Linked DNA regions of Homo sapiens. The protein of the gene in region 4 purifies or fractionates together with the protein of the main gene of each other region. This does not show direct contact. Each region holds a gene or a part of one and is shown on either strand. Other genes may lie near its edges. The genes, in order: SEC62, SNX25, NPTN, SLC35F3, SLMAP, RANBP2 and GNPTAB.

Region 1 (3,500 bases), on a different chromosome or scaffold from region 4:
CCCATGCATTTCCTTTTCTGCATTTAAAAACATTATTCTGGCCAGGCATGGTGGCTCATGCCTGTAATCCCAGCACTTTGGGAGGCCGAGGCAGGTGGATCACCTGATGTCAGGAGTTCAAGATCAGTCTCGCCAACACGGTGAAACCCTGTCTCTACTAAAAAATACAAAAATTAGCTGGGTGTGGTGGCATGTGCCTGTAATCCCAGCTACTTGGGAGGCTGAGGCAGGAGGATCACTTGAACCTCAGGAGGCGGAGGTTGCAGTGAGCTGAGATTTCGCCACTGCACTCCAGCCTGGGTGACAGAGTGAGACTCCATCTCAAACAAACAAACAAACAAAAAAAACCCATTATTCTGAGGAGTCCATGACACAAAAAAGTTAAAGTGATCTAGGAAATCATTGAAAATGAAATAAGACCAAAGTGTGATGATATGACCCCCTTGAAATTTAACTTATCTTTCCCTCTTTCTGTCATGCTAAGAAGAGATCATAGGCCTTTTGGACAATCCTAAAACTATAAACCTCAGAAAATATGTCCTCTCTCAGACTGAAATTTCGTCTGATTGGAAAAGCCATGCAATTAAAGTATCAAAGGATCTCTGTGCTAGGTTGGACAAATGAAATAAACGCATTGGGACCTACTCAGAAACTCACAACTAACTGCTTTAGCCATTGGTTTAAGGGCTTGCCAAAGAAGGCAAATTTAAATTAATCTCCTTGTGTAGTTATCTGCATGACATTCACTAGAACAGGATTTTAGTTATCAAAATGCTTACAACATGCTGTATAAAGTTATGAGATCTTTTCTAATGTTTGGTGATAAGGATCTGACAAAGAGGTCAATTCCTCATTGGAATTTTTGTTCCCTAGGAATTTCTCCTTGGTATTGGTCTTGATTCCAATAAGAAACAGATGGTTCTTTACATGAAGATATTATGAGGAGATAAGTATAGGTATAGGCTACCCAAAGAGGAAGCACAGTAGCTTCTGCAACTCCAGGCTAGTAGCAGCAGAACTGACATCATCCTTGGCCAGAAAGGAAGAGTGCAGGGACTGGCAACCTGGAAAGCAGGGAAGGAGTTTGGGAGAAGTGACCTTTGGCTGCTAAGGCAGCCCCCCAACCCCAGGAGAAGAGCCGAGAATAGGCACCCTACCATCCTCTGATCTCTGGCCAGGACACTCCTTGGCCAAACCCACTCAGAAGCCAGGAGGCATAGGAGCCCACTGCTGTGGTCCATTCGGGTCAGCTTTGTGGGCAAGAGCAGAGTGGAGCTGGAGGGGAAAACAAGAGATATCCAGCACATGTAGCAATTTGCTGCCGTAGCACTTAACACACTATTTAATGGTGCAAGAGAATTGTATTTTTATTCATGGTTGTGCCTAGTAAAATTCTGGTACATGGTAAGTGCTCAGTATTACTGAGTGAATGAGCAAAGACCTGAAATACTGTGGAAACAGTAAAAGCAAATTACCACACAATTAGGAGGAATTATTTTCAGACATAGGATATTTAAAACATCACTCAAATACTGGAGCATGATTCAGCAATAAATTCTATTCCATAAACCAGGTAGATAAATGTCACAGCTTTAAAATATAGTTAAGTACAGTTGATCCTCGTTATTCATGGATTCCGTATTTGTGAATTTGCCTAACCTAAAATTTTGTGGTACAGCAAAAAACTTGCTGTACACATATTCTGAGCTGAGGTTGAACAAGGCCATGTTCCAGCTTTCATACTATAAACGTGTCCTTTTTACGCTAATGCCATGGTTTTTGCATTTCTGTTCTTTTTTTGATTTCACTGTTTAAAATGGCCCCCAAGCATAGTGCTAAGGGCAAAAAGCTGTTCCTAAGGGTAAAAAGGCTGTTGTGTGCCTTATGAAGCTTATGTGTCAGATAAGCTTCATTCAGGCATGAGTTACAGTGTTGTTGGTCATGACTTCAATGTTAATGAATCGATTATATTAAATAAGGTGTCTTTACAACAGAAATTTACATGTTGACTGCTTGATGAAAATGTGACCAGTGGCTTGCAGAAATCTAGCCTTGTATTTCCCCTAGGTTCTATATTTGCTAATTCAGTGTTCGCAGTGACTTTATAGAACGTAACTACCTTGAATAATGAGAATCAACCATACTTGCTGTTTTCCAGTTCCTAATAGATTTAAAAAAAAAATTCAATTTACAAAAGACACAAGATGACTTTTCTTGTCAGCAGCTAACTGATCCTCATGATGTAAAACCAGAAAGAGGGGGGAAACACCAAAATTCATCACCACTGCATAATTTCAATGTGATATATTAAAATTTATTACTTCCTGAATAGTATTCAACTAAATCTATATTATTTCAATTAAAGTTACCTAGGCCATATGGTTTGAAAATTGAAAAATCCAGTAAGAGGGAAAAGGAAAAATACCTTATTTAATACATTGACTTTAAGAACAATCACATATGCATTATTCTTACTATCTGAACTTAGCCTCTGGTAAATTCAATCCTGCTTAGTTAGGCCAATTGATACCCTCTACAATAAGCCCTACATGATCAAAAAGCTTCATGCTTTCTACTTACAGCAGCATAGCAAATCTGAAGTTCTTAAAAAAAAATCGCCATTCTATTAACAATTATAAACGATTTTCCATGCTCTGGTACAAGAATATTTAATGTTAGCCAAGAAAGATAGCCATCTATTCCACTGAGGATTGTAATAGAGGCAGCCTTTTGATTTTTATATTTGTTTAAAGTACACAACTTGAATAGTAAAATAGAAACTGAGCTGAAATTTCTAATTCACTTTCTAACCATAGTAAGAATGATATTTCCCCCCAGGGATCACCAAATATTTATAAAAATTTGTACTAACATTCTGTAAGAATCCACACACATCAGTAAGAAGCTGACCTTCCTGTTGGCCATGCTCCAAATGTCTTTAAGACTAGACAAATTACATATATTATAAAAAATTTCAGGATGAATATTGAGTGCCTGGGTATTATCACAGTAATAGTAAAGGTTAATGAAATAATTTTTATTTCTGAAAAACACCATGTTTATACCCCAAAATAGGTATCAATGTTACTGGTGATAAACTCAGAAGTGATCATTATATATATGCTTACTGTGGAAATGAAGTAGTAGAGCTCTGCAAATGGGACGGGAAAATACCCAGGCACTTCATCAATGAACATTTATTTGCTAAAAAGAAACTATTAAAGTGATTGCAGCCTTGACATAGTTGCATTAACATCAAATAGCCACATTTATGTCCACTTACAGGGACTACTATAAAGAAGCAATCAAGCCAAGTTTAATAAAATGTGTCGATACAGAAAACATATTTTTCACAATTAGAAAAATTTAACATCTTTAATTCAAACACTTAGATGAGAAACAGCCTAAAGCAAAGACTGACATACACTACCTATTTCAACCACAAAGCAAGATGCTCTCACTGTGACTGAAGAAAAATCATTTAATATTCATTATTAGTT
Region 2 (3,500 bases), on a different chromosome or scaffold from region 4:
AAGAAAACATTTTTTCTTTTTTCTTTTTTTGTTTTTTTGAGATGGAGTCTTGCTCTGTCGTCCCAGCCTGGAGTGCAGTGGCACAATCTTGGCTCACTGCAACCTCCGCCTCCAGGGTTCAAGCGATTCTCCTGCCTCAGCCTCCTGAGTAGCTGGGACTACAGGCGCCCACCACCACACCTGGCTAATTTTTTGTATTTTTAGTAGAGACAGGGTTTCACCATGTTAGTCAGGATGGTCTTGATCTCCTGACCTTGTGATCCGCCTGCCTCAGCCTCCCAAAGTTCTGAGATTACAGGTGTGAGCCACTGCACCCAGCCCAAAAACATTTTTTAAAAACATGCCTAAGTGAGAGAAACAGGGCTAGCCTGCCAGCTTCTATAAAGCATACATGTGGCCTTGGCTTAGATAAACCCCGAAAGACGGACCAAGGCCCTCCAGACATTCAGCTCTGGAGGACTGAGACAGGAGTACCCCAACAGGGAACGTCTTTCTCACAGACTGGCAGTGGCGGCATAGCACAGGGACCTCTCTCCAGTGCTTTGCAAGCACCAGGAATGGAAGAATGTAAGTTGAGATTATCCCCAAATACATGGGACACTGTCTGTGGGCTCCCAGAAATGCTGATGGGGTGGCAGAGCAAGAAGGTAGGAGTACTGCAAGAGGATGAGGTTCTGTATGAGATCAGAACCTCATTAAAAAAAACTTTAAAATTAGTTTAATTTATGTAAACTCACCCGTATATACAGGTGGGTGAGAACTACAGAAATTCAGGTTACTGTAGCAATGAGTATTTGTAAAATATTTATCTAATTTTCCAAGAGGTATATTCTACACTAAAATAGGAAGTCTATTGAATAGATCCTAGTAGCCTAATAAACAAGTTATGTGTCTTATCCTAAGGATGCACAATTCCTTGCTCCCCTCTTTGCTTCAGAAGCATTTTACTTGGAGTTACCATATTCATTTTTCTTTACATCCAGCTTGTGGCTACTCATACCTAGAAACCCTGGGCTGACAAACATACCAGGACTGGCAAGTGCCTAGAGTGGCTGCTGAGTGCTGGCTAGCTGCAGGGGCAAAGCAGGCATACCTCACACACCTAGCTGCCTTCTCCCAAAGCAGCACCTGGGCTGAGAGGCCCACCAACATACATGCAAACCTGCTGGGATTTCTGGAAAGCTCCACCATACTTACAAAAACTACAGAAGCAGGCCAGGAGTGGTGGCTCATGCCTGTAATCCCAGAACTTTCTGGGGCCAAGGGGCACGGATCGCCTGAGGTCAGGAGTTCGAGACCAGCCTGGCCAACATGGCAAAACCCCGTCTCTACTAAAAATACAAAAATTAGCCAGGCTTGATGGCGGGCGCCTGTAATCCCAGCTACTTGGGAGGCTGAGGCAGGAGAATCACTTGAACCCGGGAGGCAGAGGTTGCAGTGAGCCAGGATTGTGCCACTGCACTCCAGCCTGGGTGACAGAGCCAGACTCCGCCTCAAAAAACTATAGAAGCACACACTCCTAGACTAAAGCAGGGTGTGACTTAGACCTAAATCCCGGCCCTTAGGGTATCCAGGAGTGCCCCTGCGAAGGGCTGCCTACCTACCTGTCATCCCCATTCAACCAAGCAACCTAGGTGGCATAGGTGACCTACAGCAGTGAAGGATAAAAATACAGGTTCTGAGTTTGCAATCTTTTTCCTTCAAAAGTACAGTTGCAATGTTAAAAATGCTGGCAAGGTGGTATGCAATTATTTCAGTCCTAACAGCCTTCCACAGACACTGTGCATTTTCTGTGTCCTGAACGCTCGGCACCAAACTTGCTGCGTCACCTTTTTAGCACAACCACGTGTACCATTCTGACTATAAAGAATCCTACATTTTAAGGAATCTAGGGCACTTCCTATCCCCAAAATGATATGGTTGGGAAACGAAGCCTAAGATATTTTTAGGAAGGCAACAGTCAATTACCATTACCAATGTGACATCGTATGCTTCAAAAACAAAAGCAGCTGAAGATTCAAGAGTGAGAAATAAATCCCCTGGGAATGACCAGAATTAAGAAGGTGCCAAGTAGAACATTCAACTTGGAAGACTTTCCTAGGATACATCTGCTGCTATATATTGTGGGATCCTTTGGTTTGGGGTTGAATTTATTGTTTAAAAGGAATGTTAGGACCCTCCTGAGAATATTCTTGAACCTATTGTAATGATAAATAATGAGAATTGTATCAAAGAAAAGTCTCACTCACTTTTGAATGTACTGTCTGTTGTCTCCATTCACACAGCTTCATTAACTCTCACTTTTTATCATTGCAGCTACACAGTATTTCTCTTTTTTTTTTCCCAAGACACAGTCTCACTCTATCACCCAGGCTGGAGTGCAGTGGTGCGACCTTGGCTCGGCCTCCCAAAGTGCTGGGATTACAGGCGTGAGCCACTGCACTCGGCCAGTATTTCTCCTTTTAAGTCCACCCCAATCACATATCCATTCAACGTTTCAAAGCCCAGCTCTGATGCTATCACTCCTGGGCTCAGAAAATGCCAACAGTGACCATGCCTGAAGACTAAAATTCAGTTCTACTCCACGGCATTTCCACAACCTGGCCAACACTACCTTTCTAATCCTAGCTCCTATGAGTCATCTCATATACTCACTGGTAAGTCAAATCTCAAACGGTACATGTACTCTGGACCCATTTTGTTGGTTTTTAAAACTTAGAAGAACACATATTGCTTCCTTTAGATGATTTTGCTAAATTCAAATACACACTTTTGTCGGCCGGGCGAGGTGGCTCACAGCTGTAATCCCAGCACTTTGGGAGGCCAAGGCGGGTGGATCATCTGAGGTCAGGAGTTCAAGATCAGCCTGGCTAACATGGCGAAACCCCATCTCTACTAAAAATTACAAAAAGTAGCCGGGCGTGGTGGCGGGCGCCTATCATCCCAGTGACTCGGGAGGCTGAGGCAGGAGAATCGCTTGAACCCAGGAAACAGAAGTTACAGTGAGCTGAGATTGTGCCACTGCACTCCAGCCTGGGCAACAAGAGCAACACTCCATCTCAAAAAAAAAAAAAAAAAAAAAAACCAAATACACACTTTTGTCATTTCCTGGGTACACTTGATTAGCATTGTTTTTTGTCCCAGGTTTAATCATGCATTGTACCTTCACACTTTGAAGTTATCACTATTCATATACAACTTCATCTTATGCTGACTGATCTTAATAGTTCCATCACGACAGATTATACAGAGAAAAACTTTCCTTTATGTGTAATCACTGTTCACATACCAATATTATATGTATCAAAAACTTCTCCTTTTGAATACATGTGTGTATGTGCCTATATGTATGTCAAATATATCTGGAATAAACAGAAACTGTTAATAGTGGCTGCCTAGAGGGAAGATGTTTTTTCACTGTATACCTTTCTGTACACTTTTTTTAAAATCATATGATTGTGCAACCTATGGAAAAAACTAAATTAAAAAATAATGAATTT
Region 3 (3,500 bases), on a different chromosome or scaffold from region 4:
AAAAACTTCTGGCTGGCAGGGGGGCTGTGGCTCATGCCTGTAATCCCAGCACTTTGGGAGGCACAGGCAGGAGGATCACTTTAGTCCAGGAGTTTGAGACCAGCCTGGGCAACATAGGGAGACCTCATCTCCACAAAAAATTCAAAAATTAGCCAGGCATGGAGGTATGCGCCTGTGGTCCCAGCTACTTGGAAAGCTGAGGCAGGAGGATCACCTGAGCCTGGAAGGTTGATGCTGCAGTGAGTAATGATCACGCCACTGCATTCCAGCCTAGGCAACAGAGTGAGACCCTGTTTCAAAACAAAACAAACAACAGAAAAACACACTAACTTTTGAAAAGTCCATTTCATTTCATATTCATTTCCATATTTTTCTCTCATTGAGCTTCTAAACAAGCACAGTACTATGTAAGAAAGAGATCATTTCTGTTTTTGAGTACCCTCTCAACCAGCTCTTTGTCCTACTTATAATGGTTCTGACGATGAGTGCAAATAACTCTATTCTTCCGCTAGTTTCATTAAAATCATCTTAATACTAAACCTATGCTTTCTTCCCTGTGCTCTAGGCCATTGCTCTTTGATACAGCCCATCCATCTTTGGAGACTGCCTAATTCCCTTACTTCATTTACACTGCTACCTTGAAAGTATTAATAGATAATCACATCCCCCTAGTGCTCCCTGTTCCTAAGTTTAGCTCCTTCAGGCTTTTCTCCTAAATCTTAAGCTACCATCAACATAGATTCTATGTCTCTTCCAAAATGTGGTTAGAAAGTATTCTTATTTGGAGTTCAATCCTAGTAGAAAACAGTAATGCTGTTAGGTTAGCACCATACTTTTGATACGTGATCACTATGTTATTTGTGTAAGGGTAATTCAATGACAGTTCACTGCAAGCTATTTGAAACCTCTTTATACTTGCTTTTTTCCAGGTAGCAGTTTCCTGGTTTGCATTAAGGCCATTTATTTCATCTCCCTTGATGCACGATTTGAGATTCAGCATTAATGAATATAATTTCAATGCTGGAGCTCCTTGTGCTATTTTTTTCCAGTTGTTCGGCAATGATTCCCAAACCTGCTAAACTCGTATAATCAAAAAAATCCCAAGTTAAATTTAACACATTCCTTCAATCTATGAATTTAGAAGTTTTTCACAGATAGTTGCCAACAAAGGAGGACATCTTGTTGCCTTTTTTTCCTCCAGGAAGCAGTGTCTAAAAACTAGGAAATAATCCCACTACTCTAGGATCTTAAACATGAACGGCAGATGATTCTTTAGTGATGGTTCTGCTTACCCTCTCTCTCTCTTCCCTTGGCCAGTATTCAAGTCAATCTGTACTCAACAGAAATGTGCCTCAGACTACAGCAACCAAGTAAAGCATTTGGCTTAGAATAAACATTAGTACTCCCAGCCCTGCAAACTCAAAGGCTCAGGAATAAGGAACACAAGGTCTAATTTAAAAGGAAGGTCAACTGAATATACTGGAAAAGTTATGTCTTGATTATATTCAAATTACTGTGGCTTCCCCTTTTTCTAAAGTTCTAAAAGGAAAAAAAATCGCTATATATAATGGCTAATGTATAAATCCAAAATGTTTTATTTTCTTTACTCATAATGACTAATAACAGTATATGCTGATATTACTGATAAATGTCTAGTGAAAATCCTTGTGTTAACAAAAATCATAATTATTCCAGACTAACATGGCATGTAAAAAATAAACAAAAGCCCCAAACTACTCCATACCTGAAAATGCTGTTTTTCAAACTGAGTTTCACGGCCCATGAATTGTGAATTCAATTTAGAAGGTCACTATGGTTCTCTTAACTACCTCACACAGATTAATAATAGGTAATGTTTCACAAGATATTACATATTTGTGTAATTTTGTTATAAATTTCTATTAGTCAAAAACTACTTCTCTATCTGGGTCACAGACAAAAAAGTTTGAAAGCCTTTTTCTAAAGAGCTTTTTTTTTTTGAGACGGAGTCTGGCCCTGTCACCCAGGCTGGAGTGCAGTGGCATGTTCTCGGCTCCCGGGTTCACGCCATTCTCCTGCCTCAGCCCCGAGTAGCTGGGACTACAGGTGCCGGCGACCACCCCTGGCTGATTTTTTGTATTTTTGGTAGAGATGGGGTTTCACCGTGTTAGCCAGGATGGTCTCGATCTCCTGACCTCGTGATCCGCCCACCGCAGCCTCCCAAAGTGCTGGGATTACAGGAGTGAGCCACCGCGTCCGGCCAAGAGCTTTATTTTTCAAGTAATTTCAACATGATTACATGTGAACCAAATATTATCTTTTACTCATATAAACTAACCCCTACTGACTACATTTCAGGTCCTAGAAAATTCTAGTTTGCAATGTAATTTTTAGGTTATTTTTAAATTAATAAGTAGCAAGGGTGTAGCTGAAACTAGATGATGAATACACAGGGGTTTATTCATTACTTAATCTATTTTTGTACATGTTTGAAATTCTAAAGATCTAAAAGAAAAAAAGGAAAAGAAATGGACCTAACAGATAACAAAGTAGTACCATGAATGTTTACAACTTGAGACCTTTAAACACAATGTTTCTAAGGAATAACAATCAAGGAACTTGCTAGGATTTAATTCAGTTAACACTTGGGGTTGCCTTCTTCGACTATAATGGACGGATTTCCAGGTCTTAAAAAATGCATAAGGGACTGCAGAAACTAACTCATATATAGAAAACAAACTTTCTCGAAAGATAACATAAAAATACAAATAGTTAAGTGTGTTTCATTGTCTCTTTATTAGTCAACCACTTTCAGCCAACAGAAAGATCATAAAATACCTACCTACCTGGCAGGAATATTCACTTCTTTATTCACACTGGCAATTTTCCCAGCAAGTTTAATATAAGATCTCTGCATAACAGACACGGTTCTGCCTCCCTTGAAACAAGAACTGCAAGGGTTGTCTGAAGTAGATTTAGAGGCATTTAGATTTCAAAACAGTGCATGCCTCAAAGTTAATTTTCATTATATTCAAAAGTAAGTTTCTAAAAACTTTTAAACAGAAAGTGTTATCATCTCTGAGCCTTTAACCTATTGGAGACAGTATCTAAGCTATAAGGGCAAGATATTTAGTAATTTTTAGAACTGAAAGGAAATTTAGACATCATCTAGTCCAATGGTTTCCAAATCCTACCATCAGGAAGAAAAGAATCTCAAAGGCATAACAATTTATATATGCAAAACAAACTCTTACTTGTGTGTTTTCCTGTATCTTCCTGCACATGAAATACTATGCCTTATTAGTATTCTATCAGGAAAGGATGTGACATTTCGTTATGCATTTTATATTTAATCACATTTAGTATGTGAGTATCCATTTAGATATGATTAAAACTATTGGTACGATTTGGGACTTAATGCTTTCTAATTATAGAAACTTACATAATATATCCAACCCTAATACTTTCAGAGTGATTTCATACCATCTCATTTATATTTCACTGTCTAGTAAATTTGAAGT
Region 4 (2,168 bases):
GAGCAATCAAATTATTGAAAATGCCAGCATTAAGTTAGGATGCCCAAGGCAGGCAGGCGGCTGTGGGGGCTGAGCTGGAAGACTGGGTAGATTTATGGACTGGGGCTGCCGCTCTAGGTGGCACTTAGAGACCAGTGTAAACTGAGCTGCGGATCCCGTTCAGAAGAAAAAGTGAGAAGGAAGCCACAGGCAGGGCTGAGCGGAGGGCAGGTGCCTTGAGGGAGAGGGAGAGGAACAGGGGAAAAGTGGAGGAGGGAGAGGCTGCCCCAGGACTTAGAGCTTCTGTGAGGCTTTGGGGATGCTTCTGCATTTCACTTTTGCAAAAGTCAATTCTATCGATATTACAGTCTCCTTCCCTTGAGACAGATGGGCTGGCTTACCCACCCTGAAGGTTCTTGGGGGCAAGTGCAATTGAGGAAAAGCCAGAATGTGGTGAGGACTGCTTCAGGACTGGTGCAGTGGGAAAGTAACAGAATGGCCATGGAGACAGCACTGAACGCTTCTTTTTCAAATATTTTATTAATCTGTTTGGCCAAACAGGTAATGGAAACTGAGAATAATAATTTGCTAAAAAGTTCAGGTCATGAATGCCCCTTTCCCCCAGGAAACAGAAGACTCCATGGTTACAGAATGCACCATTGGGTTATGACAACGTTTCAAAATAATGTTTCCATTTCATATGTAACAATGTAAACTTCAAAAATAGTAAACTCTAACCCCTGACCCTCTTTACAGATCTATCACAGATAGAATTTTCTGGCAGACCTAAATTGTGTAAGTAAACAGCCTGGTGCTTAAAAGTTTCATAAAAAGGTTTACAGATTTCAGTAAATAATTTTTCAGTCTTGGTCAGGAAGTAAAAGCAGCCAGCAATTCCCCTCCTGCACAATGTACCTTATATGGGTATTGTACACCGCGGGCCACGCTCTGTATACACTGGCCATCAGCTCTGTCATTTTTTTGTACACAGACATACACATATATAGAGAGTTTTATTTGTTTCTAAAGATTTTTACATCTAAATTATAAGACGGCGCCAGTGACGTATCACGTCACCTCGCTTCACATAGGTAAAGACGAAAATTCTGTAGAAGGCACTGTGATTTCTCTTGCATGATCTTACACAGACACGTGAGAGCAGGCCAGCCGGGGCTTGGACTTATCTTGTCCTTCCTGGTACCTGGCACAGACCTGTCCTCTGACAGTTTTTGATGTTCATCATCCATTTCTGCCTTGCCTCTTCACATCCCAGACATCCTTCCCTCCCTCCTTCCATCCCTCCATCCATCCATCCAAATAAATTGACAGTTATCTTTTGGTTCATTGAAATTCCTTAAAATTAAGAGTACAGCTCTGGTATAAAACAAAATATGACCTACCATAGCTGAAAAATAATCACAGTGTGCAATGTCATGTTCAGTTGCTAAGATTCAAAACACTTGCTAAGATTCAAAACACTTGCCCTGATGGCTGGCTTGTCAAGAACGTCAGCCATCCAAAACGATCTACGCAGGGAACTTTTAAACCCACTTTACATTCGTTGGAAAAGCACTGAGAGGTTCTTCTTTTCTCTTTTGTATTGAATTGGTACCCTTAAGTGGAAGGTCTGATGTGGAAAAGTGCAAGCAAATTGGACATGCCAATAAATACCATAGAACTTACCGCAGATGACCAAAACTGTACAGGTATGTACACCTTACCCAACTGAGGTTCCTCCCGGCAGGAATAGACCTCCCAGTCATTACCACCGAGTTCTAGAGGAGTGGTGTTAGCGGGCGAAGGAAGGGCGGGCTCTTCTGTTCTTGCTCTGAGGTCCTGAGCTCAGGTCGGCAGCGCCCTCTGCAGGCTCCTCCTTCTTCCTCACTTTGAGTCGGGTGAGCAGCTTGATCAACCAGACATCCCACTCCTCTGGCAGGAGCAGGAGGAGAAAACCCAGGCCGATGATGATGATGGCGATGACCCGGACCCCATTGAAGACGATCTGACTGGTGTAGTGATCAATCACTGTGGGAGACAGAGCATGGAGGTTTCTCAGCTGCAGGGTTGGGGGCATGTCCCTGGAGAGTGGGCAGGGCCTGGGGGCACCCTCCTCTGTCTGGCAGTGTTGTGGTCTTCCCTGGACCACAGGATTCTCCTCAGTATGATTTTGTTCCAGGTGGGCTGGGGTT
Region 5 (3,500 bases), on a different chromosome or scaffold from region 4:
TTTATATCTGAAAAACAGAGAGTTCTTGCATACTTGTGCAATTCTTTTTCTTGCCGTTGCAGTTCTGATGATAGCAAAACATTTTCCCTTTTTAGAGAATGGCATTCGGTTTCCAATGCATTCCATTCCTTTCTCAACTTCTCTAGTTCACCTAAAATAGTCCCAAAACATATTTGTTAATACAGAAATATAACTTCCATAATACTTCAAAGGATAAAGGAAAAGATTTCAGAGGAGAACATACTTTTTGCCCCCTTAAAAGCAAGTAGATTTTACATGGTTAATTATATGATTCCTGTTACTTTGCATGTATACCTCAAGGACTGCTATCAGCTTGTACTTGAACAATAGTATTTTTTTCCACTTCACTTTTATAAGACAAGCAATTTTTAACAATTTTAAAATAAAATATAAAACCGTAAAAAAATATAAATTTAAGTAGAACTTGCAGACCTGAAAATACATTTTTAGCTCCGATTTAAAAACATTGGTTTATACAACTGATAGCTAACAAAGAAAAAAAAAGCCTGCATGTTTCTTTTTTAAACAAGTTAAGAAGTTATCATTGTCAAAAGTTAACAGCTTTATGTAAAATACATTTATTCACCTTGCAACCTTGTTGCTTCTTCTCTCTGCTGGTCCTCACACTGTTGACATCTAAGCTGAAAACTGTTTTGCAGACTTGTGATTTCTTTCTCATATTCAGACGCTGCTTTCCGCCACCGCTCAAGCTCAGCTCTCACCTTCTTAAGCTCTTCTTGTAAAGAAGCAATGTCAGTGTCCCGCTCAGAGGCAACCTTTGCTGCTGCTTGATGAAGGAGCAAAATTTCATCTCGGGCACTAAGCAATTCATCTCTAGTACTTGTGATTTCACTGTCCTTCTCCTCCCGGAGATTCTCAGTATCGATGTGTAACCTCTGCAATTGGGCTGCAAAAGTATATCCATCATTTTCTTGGCCCATTAGAATAAAAGAATAATCCATACAGGATTGTAGCTAATGCATAACCTGGGTTGTCAGAGCTGTTGCTTTTGATTAAAGTGTATAAACAATCCACGTTTGATGCAGAAAGCGTCAAAATACAGATAGCAAAGAGGAAAAAAAAACCAAAGTGATCTTCATCTCCCCAACACACAGAAAATTACTTCTGATATTCCTTCTGGATTTTTTCCTATGCATTTATAAACATGTAAAAACAAACATTAAATAGGGAGTGATCACAATAAATGCAGTGTTCCCTATCCTTCTGTTGATGAAACTCTTTCAACAAAAAAATAGTTATAGTATATATAACTTATTTGCCCAACCCTTTATTTTTGACATTTTAGGCTGTTCAGTGTTTAAACACTATATACAATCCTTTTTTTTTTTTTTTTTTTTTTTTTTAGGGTGAATCCTATGTGTAGAATTGCTTGGTCAAATGGTAAGCAATAAAAGCAATAAACAGTTGACGCCCTTGATTCGTTTTTCTGTTCAAATGTCAATTCTTTAAAGAGGCCTTTTCTGATGACTCATGTGAAAAACAGCTCACTGTCATTCTCTGGCTCTTTACTCTGCTTTATTTTCCTTTGAAGTCCTTATTGGACATCATATTATCTATTAATTTGCTTATTGTTTATCTTTTCTACTGGACTGTACACCTCATGTGTGTAGGGCATTTGTTTTGCTCACAGCTGTCAGGTATTGGGGATACCCCAATATCTAACACAGTAAACAATCAAGAATTATTGGTTGAATTAATGAGTTAATAAAATTAATACTGCCTCATTGAAGGGTTATATAGATTTTTAAAAATACCTGGTTTTGTGCTCATGACCCAAACTGGAAACAATTTGTATAAAATCAAACTTGGCGCAGAACAAGAAAATTAATATTGGTTACCATATTATAAGGAAATTGTAGATTTAAAAAGTTCCAAAGGAAAATAATTAATTACAAGAGGATTTAGGGATGGGAGAAAGGGAGGTTGCTACATAAGTAAACATTAAGATATTAGACTTTCTAAGTTTGTAGGAAGGACTGAGAGGTAACAAGTTTGGAATCTGAAAGGGCACAATGGCCAGAGAAGATGATCATGATTTGTTGATACAGTCGTGAAATACACATGCTGGCACCAGGGGGCACTCAATAATGCCTGGGCAAGACAGGTTTTAAAAAAAAGGTAGCACTATGTCACAGAACCTTTAGGAAAAATTGCCCCTACACAGTCTACGATGAAAATAGAGATCCAAATCAGATTTATGTAAATTAATGGATAATGACATTAAACTACAATAGGAGTTTTAAGAGCTTTCAATTTAAAAACACATATGACATACCCTAGAAATTCTAATCTGACCAAAATAAAATTCTAATTTTAAATAACTCAAATGTTCCACTCAAAAAATAGGACCCCAAAGACTAGTTTTTCTCTGCGATATTTTTGGGCAAGTATCTTGGGCCTCGTACAATGACTCTCCCTTCTCTTCTGAATAGTGATTACTTGTCTATTTAATTTCTTCCCCACCTATCTCTCAAGCTAAAATTTTAAAACAACATTGGCTCCTTCTTTGACAAGAAGGCAAATTAATTTTACTTTAGGAATTTTACAATGGCATGGGAAAGGAAGACCTCTCCTGGGGTATCATATAATTTCCTCATAATATACCAGGAGCTCAAGCTTGAAGTAAACATTCGACAGGCAGGGGTCTTTCTGGAAATTTCTGTAATAACCCTGTAATAGCCCAGACAAAGAAATAGCAAAATGGTGATAAGAAGAACAGCCATTATCAACGAAAATCAGTGCAGAGACTACTATCCTATTCCACGTGATATATAATTTTTCTTGAGGCCAGGTGCAGTGGCTCATGCCTGTAATCTCTGCACTTTGGGAGGCCAAGGTGGGTGGATCACGAGGTCAGGAGTTTGAGACCAGCCTGGCCAATATAGTGAAACCCCATCTCTGCTAAAAATACAAAAATTAGCTGGGCATGGTGGCATGCACCTGTAGTCCCAGCTACTTGGGAGGCTCCAGAATCACTTGAACTCGGGAGACGGAGGTTGTAGTGAGCCAAGATCACCACTGCACTCCAGCCTGGGCAACAGAGCAAGACTATGTCTCAAAAAAACAAGCAAAAAAATATTTTCTTGCAATACAAGTGTGTTCTGAGCATTAGATGGCAATATATCTACACCAGCCATCAATATATACATATACCAGCAAGCTCAAAGTGCTGACGCAGAGTAGCTCAAACAGATTTCCTATCCAAAGGCCCTCTGTAGGAACTCACGACATAACTCAGAAAGTGACAGTCTTACCAACTCCAAATCTTCACCTCTGCTTTTTCCATTCTAAGTGTCTAATACGAGAGTACTGGACAATCTTCCCTTGAATTTTCTTTAAAAAAAAAAAAAAAATAGGCCAGGCGCAGTGGCTCACACCTGTAATCCCAGCACTTTGGGAGGCCAAGATTGGTGGATCACCTGAGGTTGGGAGTTTGAGATCAGCCTGACCAACATGGA
Region 6 (3,500 bases), on a different chromosome or scaffold from region 4:
TCTGTCCTCTCTCTTGTGGTTTCTTCTAATACAGCTACAGCAATTTTGCCACATGGTGACTCTCTGGGAGTGCTTGACCGAGAAACATGAGGTGTTATCAAAGAATCTTTTTCCTGGGCTGTTTTTGCTTCATCAAAAATTTTCTTAAACGAGTCTGCAACATCCTGTAGTTTAAAACGAACAGCTAAATGCTCTACTTTTCTTTCTCCATCTGCAAAATCACATGCAGTCCACAACCATACTCTTTCTGTCCCTTTCATATTTTGCAAAGTCATGTCTGGAGTTATTCTGTGATTGGCACAAAGTTTTAATACTTGGTCCCTTCTCATCACTATACGAACTTGCTTATTATCATAATTCTGTAAAATCTTTATATCACCAATGCCCCTTTCTTTCCATTGACCAACATCTTTATCATATCTGTAGAGTTTTGCCCTGTGACTAAAAACAACTTGTTCATTTTCCTCACCACTGGATACTTCAACTAGATCAGGTAAAGGAACAACAGGTTCAAAGTACTGTCCATCTCTCTCTTCTTCTTGAGTAACATCAGATTCTTCATCAGTGCCAACTGAAGTCCCACTCTGATTCAACTTGGCAGGAGACTTAGATGGACTCAAAGCAGATTTAAAACTGAAGTTAAATCCTGTTGTTGACTCACCAAAACGGAAAAGATTTTTTCTCACAGGGCTACTTGCCAATGGAGAAGCATGTACTGAGCTACTACTGACACTATCATCCAAAGCATCTTCCCTTAAATCATAGTTATCCCATTCTAATGTGGGCCCAGTGTTTTCAGGATTGGGTTTTATTGTTGTGTCTGAGGCACCGGCCGCACCTGTACCTGAACCCTTATTTTCTTCCTCAGTGACTTTTGTTTGATCATTTGTCAAAAATGTTTTGAAATCTTTCAGTCCACTCTTCATTTCTTCAGCTCTCTGTATTAACTTGGCAGCTCTGCCAGTATCTACAAGTTTATGGGGAGTTTGAAGTGGTATGTCTAACAGAAGCCGCTGGCATTCCTCAAATTTCTGCTTGAATTCTTCAGCCAGCTCTGGTGTTTTAAATTTTGCTGCCAACTGCTCTAGTTTGGCATCACCATCAGAGAAATCACTGGCTAACCACATCCATGCTCTATCTGATCCAGAGAGAGGCTTCAGGTTCATCGTAGTCGTTATCCAATGATTAGCACACACTTTTAGTACTTGTTCTCTTCGCATCAGCATTCTTAGTTTGCCATTGACCTCGTTTTTGAGAATTTTTAAGTTCCCCAAGCCCCTTTCTTTCCACTGACTTACCTCAGCATCAAATCTAAATAGTTTTACCCGCTGTGAATACAGAACTTTTTCATCTTCTTCTCCTGTTACAAGTTCTACTTTTTCGGGCATTTGAACTACTGGTTCAAAATGGATGTCATCGCTGTCCTCAGTCTTATAGGCATCATCATCTTTCTCAAAGTCACCGGAAGTGTTTGCTTTATTGGCCATTTTACCGTATTGTGATGAGAATAATTTTTCTCCAGCACCTGAAAATCCCTTGAAATTGGGGTCTTTTTTGCCAAACTGAAATCCTTCTCCTGAAGTTGATTTTGCAAGATCTGCAAATGTAAAAGTGCTACTTGTTTGGCCAAAAATCACACCACGGCCATTCTTCTGGCCACTAATATCCTGAGCCTGGAAGCCAGTACCATTTTCAAGAGGCTTTTCACTTTTCTTTTCTTGATTTCCTGGTTCCGAAATGCCAAATTTAAATCCATCAGCAGACACAGGGATGGAAAATCCTTCTTTGGTTGACTTAAATTCTGTATTAGAAGAACCCTGAAACATAAATGAAGGTGAATTTTCTTGATCCACATGCCCAAATTTGAATCCTTGCTCTGTATTGCCAAACTTAGAAGCTTTTTCTGAGAAATTACTTTTAAATCCTGTTCCCACCTGACTTCCAGAAGAGTCATGCAACTTCATTTCTGAGCCCAGTGTGAAAGCTGAAGGAGCTTCTGCAATAGGTTTATGAGTTGGTTTAGAGGCATCACAAGCCACACATTTTAAGGAAGAACTCTCATTTTGTACACAGCAAACACTACAATCCCACTGTCCTTTCCTGATGAACATTCCTTCAAATCCACTCTTTGGAGCCTTGCTTATCTCCGAAGAGGCAGGTGTTGAAATTGCAGTTGTTTGATTTTGTTTACTTGGACACTGACAAGCAATACATTTGGTAGCACTGGCTTCATTTCTTACTAAGCACACACTGCAATCCCACTGTCCTTCCTTCTTAGTGAACATTCCCTCAAATCCGCTCTTTGGAGCCTTGCTTGTCTCTGAAGAGGCAGGTGTTGAAACTGCAGAAGTAGTTTGATTTTGTTTACCTGGATTCTGACAAGCAATACATTTGGTAGCACTGGCTTCATTTCTTACTAAGCACACACTGCAATCCCACTGTCCCTCCTTCTTAGTGAACATTCCCTCAAATCCGCTCTTTGGAGCCTTGCTTGTCTCTGAAGAGGCAGGTGTTGAAACTGCAGAAGTAGTTTGATTTTGTTTACCTGGATTCTGACAAGCAATACATTTGGTAGCACTGGCTTCATTTCTTACTAAGCACACACTGCAATCCCACTGTCCCTCCTTCTTAGTGAACATTCCCTCAAATCCGCTCTTTGGAGCCTTGCTTGTCTCTGAAGTACCAAACTTAAAAGAGGCAGGAGCTGGAACAGAAGTAGATGGACTTGGTTTATCCGGATTCTGACAAGCAACACATCTTGTAGCATTTGCTTCATTTCGCACTAAGCATGAACTGCAATCCCACTGTCCTTCCTTCTTAGCAAACATGTCTTCAAATCCACTTTTTAGAGTTTTACTTGTCTCTGAAGTACCAAACTTAAAAGAGGCAGGTGTTGGAATAGAAGTAGCAGGTAGACTCTGTTTTCTCGGATTCTGACAAGCAGCACATTTTGTAGAGCTCCCCTCATTTTGTACCAAACATGCACTGCAATCCCACTGTCCTTCCTTTGTAGAAAAAACAGATCTGAAATCACTGTTAATAGGTTTAGGAAGATCTCCCTGGCCAAATTTAAATGAAGCTTGATGAACAAATGAAGATCCACTTTTGTTAGCAGATTTTGTATTCTGACACGCAATGCACCTAGATACAGTAGGTTCATTTCTTACTAAACAAATACTACAATCCCAGTGACCTTCTTTCTTTGGAGTCACCAATGCAAATCGATCTTGAACATTCTCTGGGCTGGTTTTAGGAGTAAAAACAGTTTCAGCTAATGGTGGGCCAACGAGCTCTTTATTGCTTGGGTTTAGATTTTGGCATGATACACATTTCTTAGCAGTTGAAGCATTCTTTAATGAGCAGCTGTTACAATGCCACCAAGACCCTTCTTTCTTTGCAACCTGAAATTCAAAATTCAGGTTTCCAGCATCAGATTTGCAAATATCCTTGTTATCATGACTTGTGGGTTCTTTTACAATTCTGACAGCCTGATTTGACGC
Region 7 (2,980 bases), on a different chromosome or scaffold from region 4:
TATATAAGCATTTCACTAGTCCTAGAAACAGTCAGTCAGGTGTGAACCAAGGATACAGCCTAGGCAATAAAGAAAAAGCAATAGACGAACTGGGAGACACTTTAAAAGGGAAATTGGCAGACCCTGGCACTAGAACTCCTCGGTATCTTGGAGTTGGGCAAATGAGACAATTAGGATGAATATTGCTGCTATCTTTATGTTTTTATTTTCATAAGGAGAAGTTATTACTGAATCATGGGTCTTGTCTCCCAGAAATGGCAAGGAATGGCTTCTCACCGTTTTCACTTTCCCTTAACTCAGAGGAAAAAGATCTTTAGGTGGTTCTAAGTGTTAACTCCCCAAATTCAATTTGTGACTAAATTTACCCTCAAGGGTCCATTTGAATAAGAAAGAAGTGGGCTTAAAAGTAATTTGAGAGGACCTTGATTTCTGTGCTGTACAAATGGTGTGAATCAGGTGTGGGTGCTCTTGCAGTCATTCCCCTGCCCTGGAGGTTGCTTGCTCCTCATCCTGCTTAGTTCTGCATTGTCTCTCACTGCACTGACACTAGACATTAGTTGACAGAGCTGGTTATGATCCTATTAACAGAAGTGGGAAATACAGGGGGAAGAGCTGTGTGTGGGCGAGTGCCGTTTTGGATGTGTGACTTGAGGTAGAGACGCCCAAACAGTGGAAAATGAGAATCTGTAACTCAGCACAGAGGCCAGAGTTTGGTAGTTACTAGCATATCTTCCAAACCTATGGTAAGCATTTTTATTTAATCTTCGTAACCAATTGTTCATTATTTCCAAATTACAGATGAGGAAATGGCTGTACTGCCTCTTTTTATCCTCAGTATTCTCTTGGCTCCAGGTCCAGTTGATTCTACCTCAGGAATGTCTCTTCTGTTGCTTATTTCTTTTCATTGTCACTGCTTCCTTTCATGCCTGGACTAAAACTAAACTGCCTGCCTTCCTTGTTTGTCCATCCTTCAAATGGCCAACATGTTTACCCTGATTATGTCACACATACCCCCACCTGTCTGTTTCATCCACTTTCCCACTAGAGTGTTCTGTCCAGACCCCACGGTGTGGTTTTGCAAAGCAGCTGCAGTTCATACCCTCTCGCCTTCACCTGGCTTAGTTCCCCCCATGCTGCCGCATGGATTCACTCCACTCAGTCCTGTAGGGCCCAGCTGGCCACCGTGCCACTCTACTGCTCCTTCTCTTTCTCATCCATATGCTTCCTGTCCCCTTCAAGGCTTACAGGAAATGCCACCATCTCTGTGGCACTGTCCTCATTTCTCTAAGTTTTTCACATGACTTTGCTTTTGATAATGCATATTTCTGTGTCTTATGTGATGGCAAGTCATCAGTCAGCATGTCAGCAACGCCTCAGTTTTCTAAACACTTAAAAGCAGGGACTTCATCTTGTTCATCTCTCCATATACGCAGGAAGTATTTATCAAGAAACTGAGTGAATAAATAAGTATGAGTGAATAAAAATGAATGAAAGAGTGGTTTTGTTTAAGTGCCAGAAGTAATTTTCTTTTGAAGTCCTCTCTCCTGCCTGGATAACTTCACTAATTCAAGTATAATATTTACTATGACATAATAAAAAATCTGAACTCGTGTTGGAAATGTATATTGTGTGAGCATTTTAGAATTGCAAGACAATGTTTTTGTGTTTCCCAACATTGTTTTTATAGAACTAGTATATAAATAATGCTTAACTAATGGTAGTGAAACCATATACAGAAGTACATAGTTGCTTTCTTCTCTCTGCACAGGAGGGCTTATCGAGACAAATTGAAGTTTTGGACCCATTGTGTACTAGCAACATTGATTATGTTTACTATATTCTCATTTTTTGCTGAGCAGGTAAGTTTTATATATTTTATGTGGGTATTAAATGGTATTTCTTGGTATACTAGCATCTGAATGTTTTAGAAAATGATACACATTTACAATCAAAATTTTAACTTCTCTTATTGTCTTATAGCTCATATGTGAATATGTTAAATATGTTTCACAATATTCAGGCAGCAAATATAACAGTCTTTTATTCATTTCTCTTCTAAATCCATTACCAGTATTCTTTTTATCTGGAACTCAACAGATTAACTTGTAGATATCAGGCTAAAACCAAGTAGCTCTAAGTATTTATAACCAAAAAACCATCTAGAATCCTTATCTAATGTTAATTTTCTATGGGTCTCCAATTTTCTTCCTCTCTTTCACGCTTCCTTGAGTGAGCACAGTGTCTTCAGACATCCCACGGTTCCGTTGTGTTGTCCCACTCACACCAGTAGCTCCCATTTATCTTTCTTTCAATCGCTAGGAGTTCTCCCTCCTCTCTCCTCCTTCCTCCTCTCCTTGTCAGCCCCTCTACACCTGGGCTTTCCTCTGCATGCATGTACACACGCAGCCTCCTTGAGGTGAGTGTCCAGAAGTCGGAGGGAGATTTGTGAGGTAAAGAGAAAGGGATAAGAGAGTCCTCATTAGGCTATTCACATATCAAATACTCTGAAGAAAAAGGATTGAAGGAGGGGAATGGGCATCTTTACCAACCTGACTTGGGTGTGGCAAGTGACTTGGCCTCTGCCTCCAATCAAGGTGACTATTGAGTGGAGCTTTTCTAGCTGTCACTCAAATGAAACGTACACCAAGTTGACTTATACCAAGAAGGACAAGCACCTAAGTACTGAGAGCTTCAGGATAAATGAATGGGCTTCTTGCTGTAAATGGAAGGAAATTCAGGAAACAGAGACTGGGCAGGTGAACAGGACAGCAACTTAACCTTCATCTGCTTTCCAGGGATTGTACATCTTGTTCTTGATGTCTGTTACCATTGTTCCTGGCAGGTAAAAGTCTTATGAAAAATCTCAGAAAGGCTGTACCTGCTTTTAGAACAGGGTCCAGTGAGAAACCTTTGAGTCTGCTGTGCTGACCTAGGATGGGGAAGGAAAGGAGCCCTGACTCAAAGGAGCAGCCATTAATGG

The links.
Region 1: the proteins of SLC35F3 (region 4) and SEC62 purify together in Homo sapiens (affinity purification with mass spectrometry; one large-scale study listed by BioGRID and IntAct). This does not show direct contact.
Region 2: the proteins of SLC35F3 (region 4) and SNX25 purify together in Homo sapiens (affinity purification with mass spectrometry; one large-scale study listed by BioGRID and IntAct). This does not show direct contact.
Region 3: the proteins of SLC35F3 (region 4) and NPTN purify together in Homo sapiens (affinity purification with mass spectrometry; one large-scale study listed by BioGRID and IntAct). This does not show direct contact.
Region 5: the proteins of SLC35F3 (region 4) and SLMAP purify together in Homo sapiens (affinity purification with mass spectrometry; one large-scale study listed by BioGRID and IntAct). This does not show direct contact.
Region 6: the proteins of SLC35F3 (region 4) and RANBP2 purify together in Homo sapiens (affinity purification with mass spectrometry; one large-scale study listed by BioGRID and IntAct). This does not show direct contact.
Region 7: the proteins of SLC35F3 (region 4) and GNPTAB purify together in Homo sapiens (affinity purification with mass spectrometry; one large-scale study listed by BioGRID and IntAct). This does not show direct contact.

What each region holds. Positions count from the first base shown.
Region 1 is NC_000003.12:169,994,307-169,997,806, reverse strand, and holds part of SEC62 (translocation protein SEC62), read right to left. Parts: 3' UTR 1-3,500. UniProt on the Homo sapiens protein: Mediates post-translational transport of precursor polypeptides across endoplasmic reticulum (ER). Proposed to act as a targeting receptor for small presecretory proteins containing short and apolar signal peptides.
Region 2 is NC_000004.12:185,216,098-185,219,597, reverse strand, and holds part of SNX25 (sorting nexin-25), read right to left. Parts: intron 1-3,500. UniProt on the Homo sapiens protein: May be involved in several stages of intracellular trafficking.
Region 3 is NC_000015.10:73,623,390-73,626,889, forward strand, and holds part of NPTN (neuroplastin isoform b precursor), read right to left. Parts: intron 1-3,500. UniProt on the Homo sapiens protein: Probable homophilic and heterophilic cell adhesion molecule involved in long term potentiation at hippocampal excitatory synapses through activation of p38MAPK. May also regulate neurite outgrowth by activating the FGFR1 signaling pathway.
Region 4 is NC_000001.11:234,322,844-234,325,011, reverse strand, and holds the end of SLC35F3 (solute carrier family 35 member F3), read right to left. Parts: intron 2,005-2,168; coding exon 1,769-2,004; 3' UTR 501-1,768; downstream 1-500. UniProt on the Homo sapiens protein: Mediates thiamine transport.
Region 5 is NC_000003.12:57,909,809-57,913,308, reverse strand, and holds part of SLMAP (sarcolemmal membrane-associated protein), read right to left. Parts: intron 1,423-3,500; exon of another isoform or gene 1,388-1,422; intron 1,171-1,387; coding exon of another isoform or gene 1,118-1,170; exon of another isoform or gene 929-1,117; coding exon 608-928; intron 152-607; coding exon 34-151; coding exon of another isoform or gene 1-33. UniProt on the Homo sapiens protein: Associates with the striatin-interacting phosphatase and kinase (STRIPAK) core complex, forming the extended (SIKE1:SLMAP)STRIPAK complex.
Region 6 is NC_000002.12:108,764,482-108,767,981, reverse strand, and holds part of RANBP2 (E3 SUMO-protein ligase RanBP2), read right to left. Parts: coding exon 1-3,500. UniProt on the Homo sapiens protein: E3 SUMO-protein ligase which facilitates SUMO1 and SUMO2 conjugation by UBE2I. Involved in transport factor (Ran-GTP, karyopherin)-mediated protein import via the F-G repeat-containing domain which acts as a docking site for substrates.
Region 7 is NC_000012.12:101,747,980-101,750,959, reverse strand, and holds part of GNPTAB (N-acetylglucosamine-1-phosphotransferase subunits alpha/beta precursor), read left to right. Parts: intron 1-1,768; coding exon 1,769-1,859; intron 1,860-2,980. UniProt on the Homo sapiens protein: Catalyzes the formation of mannose 6-phosphate (M6P) markers on high mannose type oligosaccharides in the Golgi apparatus.